Linked DNA regions of Homo sapiens. The protein of the gene in region 2 binds, or shares a complex with, the protein of the main gene of each other region. Each region holds a gene or a part of one and is shown on either strand. Other genes may lie near its edges. The genes, in order: SH3BP2 and TNKS2.

The links.
Region 1: the proteins of TNKS2 (region 2) and SH3BP2 are in contact, whole or in part, in a crystal structure (PDB 3TWR), measured with the Homo sapiens proteins. Residues at the interface, in NP_079511.1 of Homo sapiens: Arg525, Ser527, His531, Phe532, Gly535, Tyr536, Asn537, Arg538, Leu560, Asn565, Ser568, Tyr569, His571, Asp589, Trp591, Phe593, Glu598, Lys604; in NP_001116153.1 of Homo sapiens: Leu413, Gln414, Arg415, Ser416, Pro417, Pro418, Asp419, Gly420, Gln421, Ser422, Arg424.

What each region holds. Positions count from the first base shown.
Region 1 is NC_000004.12:2,788,015-2,796,341, reverse strand, and holds the start of SH3BP2 (SH3 domain-binding protein 2), read right to left. Parts: upstream 3,258-8,327; 5' UTR 3,204-3,257; intron 1-3,203. UniProt on the Homo sapiens protein: Binds differentially to the SH3 domains of certain proteins of signal transduction pathways. Binds to phosphatidylinositols; linking the hemopoietic tyrosine kinase fes to the cytoplasmic membrane in a phosphorylation dependent mechanism.
Region 2 is NC_000010.11:91,857,089-91,864,950, forward strand, and holds part of TNKS2 (poly [ADP-ribose] polymerase tankyrase-2), read left to right. Parts: intron 1-336; coding exon 337-442; intron 443-2,373; coding exon 2,374-2,560; intron 2,561-4,910; coding exon 4,911-5,067; intron 5,068-5,848; coding exon 5,849-5,911; 3' UTR 5,912-7,862. UniProt on the Homo sapiens protein: Poly-ADP-ribosyltransferase involved in various processes such as Wnt signaling pathway, telomere length and vesicle trafficking.

The DNA.
Region 1 (8,327 bases), on a different chromosome or scaffold from region 2:
CCTTTCTCCCCTCCTGGGAGCCTGCACCACCTCGAACTCCTGTCTGACCCAGGTCTCCACCCGCCCCGAACCTGGGCACGTGCTTCTCTCGCGTCACCCTTGAAGGATGAGTGTAGTCAGGGGCCCGGCACGGAACCCAAATCCAGCAGCGTGGTCCAGAGCCAGGGACTTCTGTCATCCCGTTTTGCAGATCAGGAAACTGAGGGTCAGGAAGTGCAATTCGCCTACAAGGCTCAGGTCTCCTGGCCCGTGGCTGAGGGCCAGTCCCTTGCTCTTGGCACCATCCTGTCTACCCTCCCGTGCACAGGCCAAGGGGTGGTGAGGAGGGTCCAGTGCCCCAGGGAAGGGGGCCAGCCAGTGAGCCTGAAATGCTCCCTACCACCCCCTCTGGGACTTAGGCAGCCCACACGTGGGACTGTCTCCAGCCCCTCGGTGTCCAGACAGGGCCACCAGAAGAATGCAGAGGCCTTCTGGGGAGGAGCCGCCTATCCTGGAGGAAGGATTCCAGGGTCTGCACGGCCCCTTCTCCTTGCCTCCCAGGCCCCTCCATACCCTCACCACACCTGGCATGCAAAGGCCACTCCCGTCAAACTGGTCTCCCACCCTCCCTACCGCCCGCCTTTGGCTTAGTCTGTCTGTACCTGCATGGCTGCCCGCCCGGCTCAGATCCCTCCTCCTGACGGCCCACCCTGTATTCATTGGCCCGAGGGGTGGGAGCCGCTCCACTGCGTCTGGGGTAGGACAGCTCTCACCTTGTGGCAAATTCCCCGTCTTTTCCCCGCCAGCCTGCCCTTCTCCTCACCCACCCAGGCTGCACAGTGATGGCCAAGCCACCCGGTTATTAAAGAACTATATACTCTGCCAGGCGTGGGGGCTCACGCCTGTAATCCCAGCACTTTGGGAGGTGGGCAGATCATGAGGTCAAGAGAGGACAGAGAGTGAGGAGGGCAGAGCCTGCCACACATAGTCACTGACCTGGGGTGTCCCCACAAGGGAGCTTTTGAGGACAGAACGCAGGAAGACCCAGGGGCTGCCCAACACTGGCCACTCCTGATGGACTCAGGCCTTAGTCCAATGTGGGCAGGAACCTGGGAGCCTTGGCCTTTACCCAGGCCTCTCCAGGCCAGTCCCTGCCCCCACCCAAAACAGGACATACAGCGGCCCTGAGGACCAGGGAGAGCACCCTCAGCGACCCACTGTCACTGAATACCAAGCACATGTCACCACCACCACCATCCCCCCTACGGACACTCATAGCCACCCACCAGGTACAAAGTGCTTCACAGCCCTCAGGTCATGGATGAGAAAACGGAGGGGTGGCAGGGGGAAGCCTCCTGGCCATGATCACACAGCTGGAAACTGGTGGCATCTGAGTTCACACCCAAGATCCTGGCTGAGTTTGCGCCCTTCCTCCCTGCCCCTCAGGAACCAAGGCTGGCCATCTCGTCTCTCTGGGCCCCTGGACTTCCCGTCTGTGGGCCTGCTTGTGTGCGTGCATCCCTGGGGGGTGGGGAGCTCCAGCTGACTCAGCACCCTGCTTCCTCTGTCCATGTGGGCAGAAAGGGCCAAGGCAGGCCCAGAGCCTGTCCTCCCTCTGTCTGCCTCTTCAGGCCAGCCTCCTTGGTGGGCTCCCCCATGATCCTGGAGGCCTGGGGACTCCCTGAAAGGCCAGGTCCCCTGTCAGCACCCCTCTCACCAGATGGCCCTGGCTGGCAGTTCCTAGACACGGCTGCCTATCTGTCTTCCTTCTGCCTGCCCCCTCCAGGGTGTGCCTAACGCAGGGCACAGAGCCAGGCAAAGGGAGCCTGGCGGGTGGCAGGGAGAGGGGATAGACAGAATCCTCACTCCCTTGCAGCCCTCGTCCCAGGCCTCCTGTCCTGCCAGGAGTGGAGTGCCTGGAGTGGGGCCCTGAGGTTGGGCTCCAAGAGGGCCCTTCGACGGTGTCTACGTAGAGGAGACAGTGGACAGAGTGGGAAGAACCAGGAGGGGGTGGAGCCCAGCCCCTCCTCTGGTCCCACAGGGCCTGAGCCAGTGAGGGCAGGAGCTTGTCCAGGCTCATGGAGTTGGTGCAGGGCTGACCTGAACCCAGAGGCTTGCTTCGGCAAGGAGGAGGCTGTGGGCCCTGCCTTCAGGCGGTTGTGGAAACAATTCTACACATTGCATCACCGGCCCATGTCACCTGCAAGGCCACACACATGTCATCCAGGCAGGCTGTCCACCCCAGCAGCCCACACGGAGTACCCGCCCCTGGCCACAGCCAATTCGAAGGACTTAAGTGTGGCCACTAGACCAGGAGGCACAGCTGTCCCCAGTGTCAACAGATGAGCAAACTGAGGCACAGAGAGGGGATAGGAGGTGCTCACGGAAAGGAGCACCAGCAGAAGGCTCCCCACAGCAGGGCTCAGGCCCTCAATACCCCCAGGGAGCCGAGGCCCAGAGCAGCGGGAAAGTGCTGGGCTGCAGGGAGGCCAGCGTACAGGTGGAAGGGGCTGTCCCCGCCCCCTAACTCCTCCAGTCCCTCTGCCACCCCTGAGATTCCCTGTTGCCCATGAGAGTCTCAGACGCCCGGCTATCAGTCACTCACACTTCAGTGTGAATCAGCGCCAGTGGGCGGCTTTTCTTGCCCTCCGTGAAGCGCGGCCGCTGCAGAGGGAAGTTTGGATTCCGGGAAGGGCGGAGAGCGAGTGCCCGCCGCAGCCTTTGAGTCTTGTGGGGAGGGTCGCGTAAAGGGGCCCCGCCGCGGGGCCAGAGGGGCGCGAGGGGTGCGAAACAGACGCGTCGCACCGCCTCCCACCCCTGAGCCCCCGGCAAGGGACACCCGGCCCCCGCCCCGAAGCCGCGCTCCCTCGGGCACTGCCCGCCGTGCCCAGGCCCCGTGCGTCCTTTGGCAAGGACACGGAGGCCCCGGGGCCCGGGGGAGGCTGCTGCGCACCCGAGACCCCCGACACCCGCCCATACCTGCCGGGACCCTGAGACTCCCCCGAGACCTGCCAAGACCTGCCGGGACCCCTGAGACTCCCCGGAGACTCCCCCGAGACCCCCGAGACCCGCCGAGACCTGTCGGGACCCCGAGACTCCCCCGAGACCCCCGAGACCCGCCGAGAGCCCCCAGACCGCCAAGGCCCGCCGAGCCCCTTCCAGACGCGGAGACCGCCCCCCCGCGAGACCCCCGAGACCCGCCGAGACCCGCCGCCGAGGCTTACCCGCCGAGCGCTCTCCTGGCCCGCGGGCCCTGGGTCGAGGCGGCGGCTTGACTCGGCCGCCAGGCGCTCCCGCCCGCGGGACCCGCCGCCGCCGCAGCTCCGTCCCGCCCGCGCCCGCCCAGTCCGCCCTCCTCCTGGCCCCGCCCCGGCCCCGCCCCTCCCCGGCGGGTCCCGCAATCCTGGAGGTCCGAGCTGGGCGTGGGGCGGGGCCGGTACCTCAGGGTGGGCGGGGAACTGCACGTGGCCTCCGCGGCCCCGGGACGAGGCCCCTGGGGGGCGAAGACTGGCGTTGTCGCGGGCCTAGACGCCGGGTCCACAGTAGGTGCTTAGTTCTCGCCCGTGAGTGAGGTAGCGTGTCTGTCCCTCCTGCGTGTCCCTCCCAGTGACACCCCAGTGCCCAGCGACCCAGGTGGAAAGGGCGCTGTCCACCCCCCCAGCCCCGTGGTCCTGATCCTGGGCGGCCCCACCCCTGCCCCGTGAGTGCGACTTAGGCCCTGGCCAAGACAGGAGCAGGGGAGGTGGGGGAGGGCTTGCTGGGCACCAGGAAACCTTGTCTTTGTTTCCAAATGTCCTCCAGGGTACTTTTCAGGCACTTCCCAGGGGGACCTCGCCTCTTGGACCAGGTCTGGACTCCGGTGGCCCAGAGGTCGTCTTGGGGCTGGGAGGCACAGGAGACCGGGTGCTTTACACTTGGCCTCCTCTGAGGCTCCCTTTCCTCCACCATCACCCTCTCCCTAAGAGTAGGCCCAGATGCCTTGGTGTAAGGGCAGGGGCGAGAAGAGGAGGGGCTTCCTGGGAGGAAATGGCTTCCCTGGGGAGCTCTCAGGGCCAGGTAGGTGGAGGGAGCCGTGGAGAAAGTGAAGAGGCTGGGGAGACCAAGCTGGGCCTGCAGAGCTTGAGGGCGAGCGGACCCCCCACCAGTGCGGGAGTCAACTGCTTGGGGCGTGGGGGGACTCCTCCCCATGAGGAGTGGGGACTGGACCCCAGGTCCCAGAGCCCAGGAAGCTGTGAGTAGAGGAAGGACAGGATCTTGCTGGGAACCCAAGGGAGCTGGGGGTGGGTGGTGGTGACCTGGCCCTGTCCAGGCAGGCGGCCAAGGTCTGACCCTCTGTACTGAGCACAAGAGGCCAGAGTCCAATGACAGGGGCTGAATTGGCTGCTCCAAATCAGGCAGGGGCAGGGGTGTCCAGGGCTGGCCCTGCAGCAGGTGAAGGACTGGGTTTGGGTCCTACAGGTTGAAATACCTGAGGGCCTCCAGGAGACACAGCCAAACCAAGCGGGTTCTCAGGGTTGCAGCTGGACCGAGTGTGGGCCAAGTCACCGTCCACCTGTCCCAGAGCTGCCCAATAATGGGTCCCAAGCCTCAGAAAGGGGATCCCTGGCTGCAATAGCCCTCCTCCCTGCTGGAGAGACACACTTGGGATCAGAGAGGTTAACTGGGGAGGGGAGTAAGTGGGAGGAGTCAGAAAACTAGGTGGCCAGGCCCTGAGCCCAGGCATAGAGGAAGAGCCAGTGCCTACCAGGAAGTGACCAGGACCAAGGCAGGGCCTCTGGAAGGGAAGGGACAAAGCAGGGGATGGCAGAGGCAGGGGAGGATATGGGAGAGTCTTCAGACAACAGGGCCCCTTTTCCCCATCTGTGAAATGGAGGGGGTCCTCTACTGGGGAGGCGGCAGAAGTGGATGGGGCATGACAGCAGGCAGATACTCACTCTACCTGGCCCAGGGCCACCCCTCACACCGGCGCTGGGGCTGTGACTCTACCCACCTACAGCCTAGCTCTCGGGGCTGAACTTAGACCCCAGTGAGGGAGTAGATGGGTGCTGGCTGGCTGGGGTGCTCACTCTCTGGGGTGCCTGCTCACATCCCCACCTGTAAGTGTCCTGGGCCTGGCTCCCCAGGTCTCAACTCTGCTCATCCCAGCATTGGGTAGCCTGCAACTCTTCTGCCCACCCCCCACTCTGGGCTATTTCACATTTTCCTAGCAGGGAGGAAGAGATAGGAACTACAGCCATTGTGGAAGTGGCTGGGCTCAGCCCCATCCGACGTTCAGTGCTGCCACTGTTAGCACCGCATGGGGCTGCGTCACTCCTGTAAGAGGCCACATGCGGAGGGAGCTCCAGGCTGGGCCAGACTGGTCTAAGGCTCCTGACAAAACACTCATGACCTTGGGGCTGTACATCTTGATGTCCCTGATGTCCAGTTCAGCTAAATAAATGCCTGGCCCCACACCAGACCCCGGGGACCCAAGATGATACAAGGAAGTCCCTACCCTTGTGGCTCACGAGAGGAGCAAATGGACAAATGAGCAGATGCCATTGGGTCACAGCAAGTGTCCTGTTCCCAGGGGACCAGCTGGGGAAAGGGGCAGAGACCGGGAGGGGAGTGGAGCAAAGCCAAACGTCGGTGCGGCCCCGCCAGGGCCTGACTACAGGGCAGGGTGTACAGGGCTGGCCTCAGATGCCAAGCTCAGAGTTGACGGAGCAGGGTCACTGCAGACAGTGTGGACGGACCAGGCGCCTAGAGAATGATCACCCAGAAATGCAAAGCACCTCTGTGCAGGGCACCTCAGCCAAACAGGGGGAACAGGGTGCAGCCTCCACCGTGGGGAGAATCCCACACCTCATATTCCTCCCCTTCTCCCCCCTTACCAGTCCAACCCCAGGGCGTGGGAGGAAGGAACTCCTAGTTGGGGCCTCAGGGCAGCTCCCAGCAGCCCCTCCGAGCAAGAAGCTGCTGGAGGCTGTGGCCAGAGCCTCTGGGCACCCAGGGGTTCCGCTGAGGCTGACAGAGCAGGGATGGGTGAGGAGGATGACCTCGCCTGCTGGGAGGGTATGCAGGGCAGGTGAGCAGAGGTAAGGCGAGGACCCCTGGCCGGCAGGGAGCTGGGGAGCAGACCTCCACAGGGCACATCCGGGGTAGAAGCCCATGGTGATGCCCCAATCACACCCACAGAATAAGGCCAAAGAGAAGGGGGCCGGTCCCCCGCCACACCCATCCCCCGTGTGCCATCGGCCATGCCACTGATTTGGCAGGACCCAGAACAGGCAGAGGCAGCTGCTGTCTGGGGGGTAGGGCAGGACCTGCTGAGGGTGAGGCTGACGGTTAGGATGGCGAGGGCAAGATCTGCCGCTGGTCTACGTGTCACAGGCGTCCCAGCAGGGGGCTTCATGCGCCTGCCAAGTCTCTTTTTCCTTCCCTGGGCCAGCAACCCTGGAGTCGTCCGCACTGATGCCTCTCTGCTCGCCCCACATCCCGTCCGCCCTGAAGGTTCTGTTGGCAAAGCACACCTGGAATCCTGCCTTTCTCAGCCCCTGCCTGCCTCATCCTCCCTCTCCTGCGCTTGCCTGGCAGTGTCCATCATCACACCAGAGGGGTGCAGTCACAGTGTGAGTCAGGTCATGTCACTTCTTCACTCAGAACTTTCTGTAGATCCCACCTCCCCCAAGGCAAATGCCTTCTATCCTTGCATGGGCAGGGCCCAGACCGAGCCTGTGCCACCTGCCTGCTCCCTGAGTTCTCTCTCCATAGCCCCGCTTAGCATTGGCCACACTGGCCTCCTGTCTCCTCCAGCACCGCAGACACATTCCCACCTCAGGGCCTTTGCACTTGCCATTCCTGCCCCTAGATCACCCTTGGCGGGTGTGCCTGGACCCCTCGCTTCCCTTGGTCTGGGCTCTGCTTCCAGGGCACCTGAGTTACAAAATAGACTCCCAGTGCATGATTGGTGAATGAACAGACAAAGGCCTCAAGGGGCAGCCCCAAGGAAGGGGCTAGGTAGGTTTTGTTTTTGTTCTTTTGTTTTGAGATAGGGTCTCACTCTGTTGCCCAGGCTGGAGTGCAGTGGCACTGCAGCCTCAACCTCCTGGGCTCAGGTGAGCCTCCCACCTCAGCTGGGACTATAGGCATGTGCCACCACACCCAACTAATTTTTATTTATTTATATTTTTTATTTTTTTGTAGAAATAGCGTCTCACCATGTTGCCCAGACTGGTCTCGAACTACTGGGCTCAAACGATCCACCCACCTCAGCTCCCAAAGTGCTGGGATTACTGGCATGAGCCACTGTGCCCATCCTAGCCAGGTTTTGGAGCTGCCACCTGGGTCCCGTGTCCAGAGGACCTTGGAAGCATGGACCCTGCCCTCCCACCTGTCCCTGTCCCCAGGAGTGGCCCCACAGTGATACAGTGTACCACCTCACCAGGCCGCCTCGCTAGGAGAGGCAATTCCTGAGTAGGGCCAAGGCCACAGGCTTCCCACCTGCTTCCCTGGGGATAGGAGGGGACAGGTTCCCACCCTACCTCCCCCAATCCCCACTCCCTGGGGGAGGCTGTGTGGAGTCATCCTGCCACACAGTCCAGTCCCCTGGCCACACAGCCCAGCACTGGAGGGAGGGGCAGAGGGGGTGTGGGGGAGGATTGTGGCTCATGGGAAGAGGAGTTTGAGGAGGCAGGCTGGGCCTCACACGCAGGCATCAGTCTGGCTCTGAGGACAGGGCTGGGGGCTGGCATCTCTCCCAGGAGGCTGGGCTGGTGGCAGGCACTCTGGCAGGGAGGGCAGGCTGGACAGGAGTGGCCCCTCCCAGGCTCTGGGCCATCTCTGCATCCCAGGCCAGGCCTGGCTGCCTCACGCCTTGCCCTGGGTGGGATGGGGAATATTTTCTCCTTTACCGAATGAAGGGGAAAGGAGCAGCCTGGGGCTGGAGGGGGAGCAGTGGAGGTTGGGTGGGATGGTAGGACGTGTGTGCTGGTTGAGGGGTGGAAGCATGGAGGCCCGCTCAGGTCTCAGCCAGACCCCACGCCAGAGTGCCCTGCACACTGGCCTCCCCTCTGCCTCCACTGCCCTCCAGCGTCATCCCGGGAAAGCCAGCTCAGTAGCATTACCCCAGGGGACCTCCCCAGACCCCCACAGTCATGCCCAGATGTGCACCTACATCCCACCACACTGCCCAGAACTAGCCTTCCTCACCACCCCATCCCACCCCCTAGGCTGGGGCGCCTTGAGGTCAGGGCTCTTCCAGTGGCTCTGGTCCCCAGGATGGTCCAACACGGGGCCCTGCTCAGAAAACATCCTCAGTGGGTGGCCCCAGCCTGTGGGCTTCTGGCCAGCTGCCCTCAGTGAGCCTG
Region 2 (7,862 bases):
ACTTTATACAGAAAAAACTCGGCATGTCTGATTTGGAGGTGTTTTTGTAATAGTTTTAAGTTAATGAGAATGGAAGTGTTTTAATAAATTAACAGTATTCCTGACCTTCACATATGGCCTTTTTTTCTTTGAATTTTTTTAATCTCCAAAATGTAGCTATACTTCCAATTTTATGGTTGGGACAAAGTATTTTTAGTTGATTAAAATAACACATTTTATATTTCAGAGTACAGTTTTGCCTACCTTCTAGCTAAATGTATGTCCCATGTTTGGTTTAGATGAAGAAGTCAGTAAGTAATTCCTAAAGATTTGATTTTTCTGGTTTATTTTTTATAGATTCAGAAGGTTTGTAACAAGAAACTATGGGAAAGATACACTCACCGGAGAAAAGAAGTTTCTGAAGAAAACCACAACCATGCCAATGAACGAATGCTATTTCATGGTAAGATTCCTCCCCACCAACTCTACCACTGTCTTCCACATTAGGATAGTTTTTTTGTTCAGATATGAAATAATAATAAGCCTGTATATTCTTTATGTCAGTATTTTAAGATAAACCTACTATTTCTGTAACTTTCACATTTATATTTTCAACTTCTTTTGAATTTGTGTATTTTATAATGGATTGTTTTTAAATAAGATTACCACAATAAAAATAGAAATGAGAGTGTTGACTATCTTTTCCTTTTTTCTTTAAATAGTAAATTTTGCTTATGGTCACTCTAGGAAATTTTGTGTTTTCCATTTAACTAGTTGATTGAATTAAAAATAAGACCTGGGAATCACCTCAGAAGAAGGTGTACATCCTATTCTGATTTTGATTCTAAGTATCAAACCCACACAATTTGAAAAGAGCCATTGTTATTGAACCTGTAGAGGTTTCTGATGACTGTAGAATTGAAACCATAGAATTGAATTGAAAGCACAATTACTTATTCTTCTTGGAATTTTCTACTTTTTTTGTATTATAAGCTGGCAGGTGTTGATTAGTCTTTCAAATTTTAGCAAAGTTAAACATATTAATGTAGTATTTATGAGGGCTTCAAGTACATTACCCATAGTAGTTCCAGTCTGTTTCTTCATTTGTCCTTGATTGCAGAAAAATTTTAGAGACCTGTAAAGTTCTCTAAAACACAGTAAATTTCATAATACCCTGGGAGAATGGCTGTAACAGAATGGATTCATGTGCAGAATCTAAACATGTTGCACTCCTTATTCCAAAACCCTAAATAATTATCATGATAATCTCTTGACACAGAGCATATTTATTTATCTGTTAATTGATGGTTATAATATGGTTTTTCTAATTTGTAATATAAATAATTTTGGTTTTCCCAAGTTAATTCAAAAAATGATTCTATTCATCTGTATTTCTGTAAAGTAGAATTCAGTATATTTTCCTGTCTGTCTGTGGAAAGGGAATGTGATCTTGATAAATGAATTAGCTGTGGTTTTTTGACTTTTTCCATCCCCCACTCTACTCCACTCCCAAGGAAAGAGGAGAGAGAAGTCAATGTGCAGGGGGTGAGGGAAAGCACCACATTTGCAGATAGAATCTTGTATCGTAATTAATGAAAGGCAGAAGTGGAAGGATAGAAGAGAAGAGGTATAAGAAAGAGAATAAGAATGTGAAAGTTGGGCCGGGTGCGGTGGCTCACGCCTGTAATCCCAACACTTTGGGAGGCCAAGGTGAGTGGATCACCTGAGGTCAGGAGTTTGAGACCAGCCTGACCAATATGTTGAAACCCTGTCTCTACTAAAAATACAAAAGTTAGCCAGGCATGGTGGTGTGCACCTATAGTCCCAGCTACTCAGGAGGCTGAGACAGGAGAATTGCTTGAACCCGGGAGGCAGAGGTTGCAGTGAGCCAAGATCATGCCACTGCACTCCAGCCTGGGCCACAGAGCGAGACTACATCTCAAAAAAATTTAAAAAAAAAAAGAATGTGAAAGTCTACTTGGGCCACTTGGTATCTTCAAAAAAGCACACAGGCATAGGCATCATTCTAAGACCTAATTGCATTTAGCTTTGCTATCTAAAGTGAATTATGAGCCTCTTGGTTTTAGATTTTTATGGATTTGCAGTCTGGCATTTGGTAACTCTTACACTGATATTTCAAGTACTCTGTTTTTCTAGTTCAATCTGTGTCCTTATTTTAGCACATAAACCAGCACTCTGTTAGAAACATTAGTTGATGTTAGCAGTTCTTTATTCTAAAATAGCTGGCTGACAGTTAACTTGTTACCCTTTTTCGTTTTGGCTTTATTATGGTTGGGCTATATATTTAAGAATTCAGTTTCTAAGAAACTAGTTTTTTACTTTTTATTCTAAGATAAATTTTAAATTATTGTTACCCATCTATATGTGTTTCAGGGTCTCCTTTTGTGAATGCAATTATCCACAAAGGCTTTGATGAAAGGCATGCGTACATAGGTGGTATGTTTGGAGCTGGCATTTATTTTGCTGAAAACTCTTCCAAAAGCAATCAATATGTATATGGAATTGGAGGAGGTACTGGGTGTCCAGTTCACAAAGACAGATCTTGTTACATTTGCCACAGGTAAGAGATCACTTGTTCTCATTTATTTTGGTGGTAATCAGATAAGAACTAGTTGCATTTTTGAGGGCAAAGCATTATGTTGGACAGTCTTAGGAATGCAAGCTAGGCATGTTTTAGATTGCTTTTGGCCCTCTCACCAATTGTAATAATAGCTAATATTTATTAAATGATCCGTATGGGCCAATTATAATTTAAGCACTTGACCTGTTTGGCTAATTTAATCATTAGAATATCTGGTGCCTTAAAGCATACTGAGTAGAAAGTAACATTAGGCATGAAAGAGGCTTTATTGTAGCCCTTGAGTATTGTAGGACTCTGTGGACTCTAAAAATCTAGTATTCAAATGCTAAAATGGCATTATTTGTCAAATCTAATTATTTGATGGCAGTGCCTGAGCCTCTCTTCCACTGTGATACGATCCTAATCCTCAATTTGCAATATTACTATAAGAACTTGAAATTAAAACATTGATCCTTTTTGAAAGGAAATAATAATCAAATAACTACTTTGCACTTTTTTTTTCCACTTTTAATTACCTGTTCTAACTCACTTGTTAAAAATCATTTAAGTAACTTGTCCCTAACTTATAAAATCCTTATAGGCAAAAAGTAATGCCACTTGAAAAATCCAGTAAGATTAATTCCTGAGATTTATTCGACAGTTAGGGCACTGCTTATTGAATATACAGAGCAGTAGTTTATCAAGCATTAGCATGCATTAGAGTCACCTAGATGGCTTGTTTAAATCACAGATTCTTAGGCTCCACCTTCTCAGTTGCTGATTTAGTAGATCTGGGATGAGACTCTAGAATTTGAGTTTCTACCAAGTTCCCAGATGTGACACTGTATTTCTGACCACTGATCTAGAAAAAAACCCCTAGAGCAGTACTTTGCACTTTGGCAGCACATTGGAATCACCCAGGGAATATTAAAAAACTATTAATGCCTGTGTCCCACCCTCACAGAATCTCTTTTAATTGGTCTGGGGCATGATCTGGATATTAGAATTTTTAAAAGCTTCCCAGTTGATTTCAAAGGGCTTCCGAGCTGAAGAATTGCAGTCATGGAGGGAAACAGGTTCTTTCTTTGTGTTTGTTTTGTTCTTACTGTTACCCCTCTAAATTTAGGCCTGCATAGGTAGTACACAGTAGGCCCTCCTATGTATGACGTCCCACTCACTTCTATTTTAGATCATAAATTGGAGTGGTTAGGAGGCATGTAATTTCCTGTAAATTGAACACTGCTGTTTTTATTTGTCATATATGGTCTGAAGGCTAAATAGTTCTGATTATTAGTAATAAGCAGCATTCTAATACCTCCCTCTTCTTTGGAAGATAGAACCATCAACTGGTCTACAGAAATCTCCTGTTATCTTCTAAAAAGAAACAATGACGTTAATACTAAAAGGTTGTTTGAAACTAAGAAAGGCTAGTCACATGCCTGAGAGGAGTGAGAGGGTAATCTACTGAAACTGGTGGTGAGGGGAGACTACCAGTTTACTTCCTATCTAAGGAAGTAACATTTCAGCTGAAGTCTGAAAATTGAGTGGGTATCAGCCAGTGGAAGAGTGGTAAAATAGATAACATTCCAATGGTGGAGAAAATTCTGTGGATGGGGACCATTAATAAAGCAAGTTTGGCCTTTGTGAAGAAAAGAAAACTAATGTGCATGGGGCATAATGAACATAAAATGAGATTCAAGAAATTGGAGCCATTGTACAGAATTTGGATTTTCTCCCAAGTACAGTGACAGCCTCTAAAAGGTTTTAAGCAGAAAAGTGACTTGATCTAATTTTTGTTTGTTTTAATTAGTTGGATGGGAAAGGTTTGGACAGGAATTACAGAAGAAACAGGAAGACTGGTTTAGAAAGCCATTGTGTGATAGTCCAGGTGAATATTTCAGTGATTTGACTTAATAGTGACAGTAGAATTAAGAAAAGTAAATGGATTTCAAATATATTTTGAAGGTAAAATCAACTGGAGTTAATTAGATATGTGTCCAACTTTGCAAGCCACTTAATGGAAGTCCACTAAACCTTCTCCTTCCCACTTGGCCAGTGACTTTTGTTTTTTGCTGAGATACAAACAAGGTGGTAGAGTCTGTATCTCTATAAGGTTATTACATTTTTCAGATTTTATAGTTAAAATAAGGACTAACTAAATTGACAAATTATTTCATTAATAAGAGTAATAGAAGACATTCTTAAAAAGTTCTTTTAGGGGTGAAATGATAAAAACAATTATAAGTATTTATGTATAAATAATTTTTTAAAACTTATGCCGTGTCCACACATTGTCATATTTATGTATCAAATTTGACTTCAGGGTGATCTTTTCCTTTTCGTTTTATAGGCAGCTGCTCTTTTGCCGGGTAACCTTGGGAAAGTCTTTCCTGCAGTTCAGTGCAATGAAAATGGCACATTCTCCTCCAGGTCATCACTCAGTCACTGGTAGGCCCAGTGTAAATGGCCTAGCATTAGCTGAATATGTTATTTACAGAGGAGAACAGGTAATGTAGTTTTATTTGTTCATCTTCAAAAATGCTAGGGAGGCATACTTTAACTTTTTATTAATCTCTTGAATTGACAAGACATATTGCCTTAACTGGATTTTTTAAAAATTTTATTTGGAGATAATTTCAGATTTGGAAAGTTACAAAAATAGTAAAGAGAATTTTCTTATAACCTTTACCTAGATTTCCTAAATGTTAATATTTTGTTCTCTTTTTTACTCTTACCATTCTCTCCTTCTTTCCTTGTGTGTGTACCTATTTTTTTGTGAACTGTTTGAGAGTAAGTTGCAGGGCATGTCCCTTTACCATTAACTATTTCAATTGTAAATTTCCTAAAAACAAGAAGATTTTATTCAAATTTCGCCAGTCGTTCCGGATTTTTCTTAGCTCTTATAAATAATTGAAATCTTGTATTTAACAGCCTGTCCATAGCAAAGAAGTATATAACTGTGTTTTGCTCTCAGTGAGAGCCAAAAGTAGTTCTAGAGCAGTGTTGTGAACTGGGAGTAGGTATCGGAATCACCGCAGTTACTAAAATCAGACATGATTTTAGTCTTATCTGATACTTATGAACTTAGTATTCATCTTAGACTTGCTGATTGAAAATCTGAAGAACTGTACTCAGGGTAAAGATGTTTTGAGAAAATGTCCCTAGATGATTCTGATCTACAACAGTAATTTAGAACCTCCTCCCTAAGATTAGGAATACTTCCGGAAAGTCTGTTTATCTTTCAAGAAAATTTTTGTACCATTATTTGAATTTATCTTTCTCTTCCAGGCTTATCCTGAGTATTTAATTACTTACCAGATTATGAGGCCTGAAGGTATGGTCGATGGATAAATAGTTATTTTAAGAAACTAATTCCACTGAACCTAAAATCATCAAAGCAGCAGTGGCCTCTACGTTTTACTCCTTTGCTGAAAAAAAATCATCTTGCCCACAGGCCTGTGGCAAAAGGATAAAAATGTGAACGAAGTTTAACATTCTGACTTGATAAAGCTTTAATAATGTACAGTGTTTTCTAAATATTTCCTGTTTTTTCAGCACTTTAACAGATGCCATTCCAGGTTAAACTGGGTTGTCTGTACTAAATTATAAACAGAGTTAACTTGAACCTTTTATATGTTATGCATTGATTCTAACAAACTGTAATGCCCTCAACAGAACTAATTTTACTAATACAATACTGTGTTCTTTAAAACACAGCATTTACACTGAATACAATTTCATTTGTAAAACTGTAAATAAGAGCTTTTGTACTAGCCCAGTATTTATTTACATTGCTTTGTAATATAAATCTGTTTTAGAACTGCAGCGGTTTACAAAATTTTTTCATATGTATTGTTCATCTATACTTCATCTTACATCGTCATGATTGAGTGATCTTTACATTTGATTCCAGAGGCTATGTTCAGTTGTTAGTTGGGAAAGATTGAGTTATCAGATTTAATTTGCCGATGGGAGCCTTTATCTGTCATTAGAAATCTTTCTCATTTAAGAACTTATGAATATGCTGAAGATTTAATTTGTGATACCTTTGTATGTATGAGACACATTCCAAAGAGCTCTAACTATGATAGGTCCTGATTACTAAAGAAGCTTCTTTACTGGCCTCAATTTCTAGCTTTCATGTTGGAAAATTTTCTGCAGTCCTTCTGTGAAAATTAGAGCAAAGTGCTCCTGTTTTTTAGAGAAACTAAATCTTGCTGTTGAACAATTATTGTGTTCTTTTCATGGAACATAAGTAGGATGTTACATTTCCAGGGTGGGAAGGGTAATCCTAAATCATTTCCCAATCTATTCTAATTACCTTAAATCTAAAGGGGAAAAAAAAAATCACAAACAGGACTGGGTAGTTTTTTATCCTAAGTATATTTTTTCCTGTTCTTTTTACTTGGTTTTATTGCTGTATTTATAGCCAATCTATACATCATGGGTAAACTTAACCCAGAACTATAAAATGTAGTTGTCTCAGTCCCCTCCAGGCCTCCTGAATGGGCAAGTGCAGTGAAACAGGTGCTTCTTGCTCCTGGGTTTTCTCTCCATGATGTTATGCCCAATTGGAAATATGCTGTCAGTTTGTGCACCATATGGTGACCACGCCTGTGCTCAGTTTGGCAGCTATAGAAGGAAATGCTGTCCCATAAAATGCCATTCCTATTTTCTAATATAAAACTCTTTTCCAGGAAGCATGCTTAAGCATCTTGTTACAGAGACATACATCCATTATGGCTTGGCAATCTCTTTTATTTGTTGACTCTAGCTCCCTTCAAAGTCGAGGAAAGATCTTTACTCACTTAATGAGGACATTCCCCATCACTGTCTGTACCAGTTCACCTTTATTTTACGTTTTATTCAGTCTGTAAATTAACTGGCCCTTTGCAGTAACTTGTACATAAAGTGCTAGAAAATCATGTTCCTTGTCCTGAGTAAGAGTTAATCAGAGTAAATGCATTTCTGGAGTTGTTTCTGTGATGTAAATTATGATCATTATTTAAGAAGTCAAATCCTGATCTTGAAGTGCTTTTTATACAGCTCTCTAATAATTACAAATATCCGAAAGTCATTTCTTGGAACACAAGTGGAGTATGCCAAATTTTATATGAATTTTTCAGATTATCTAAGCTTCCAGGTTTTATAATTAGAAGATAATGAGAGAATTAATGGGGTTTATATTTACATTATCTCTCAACTATGTAGCCCATATTACTCACCCTATGAGTGAATCTGGAATTGCTTTTCATGTGAAATCATTGTGGTCTATGAGTTTACAATACTGCAAACTGTGTTA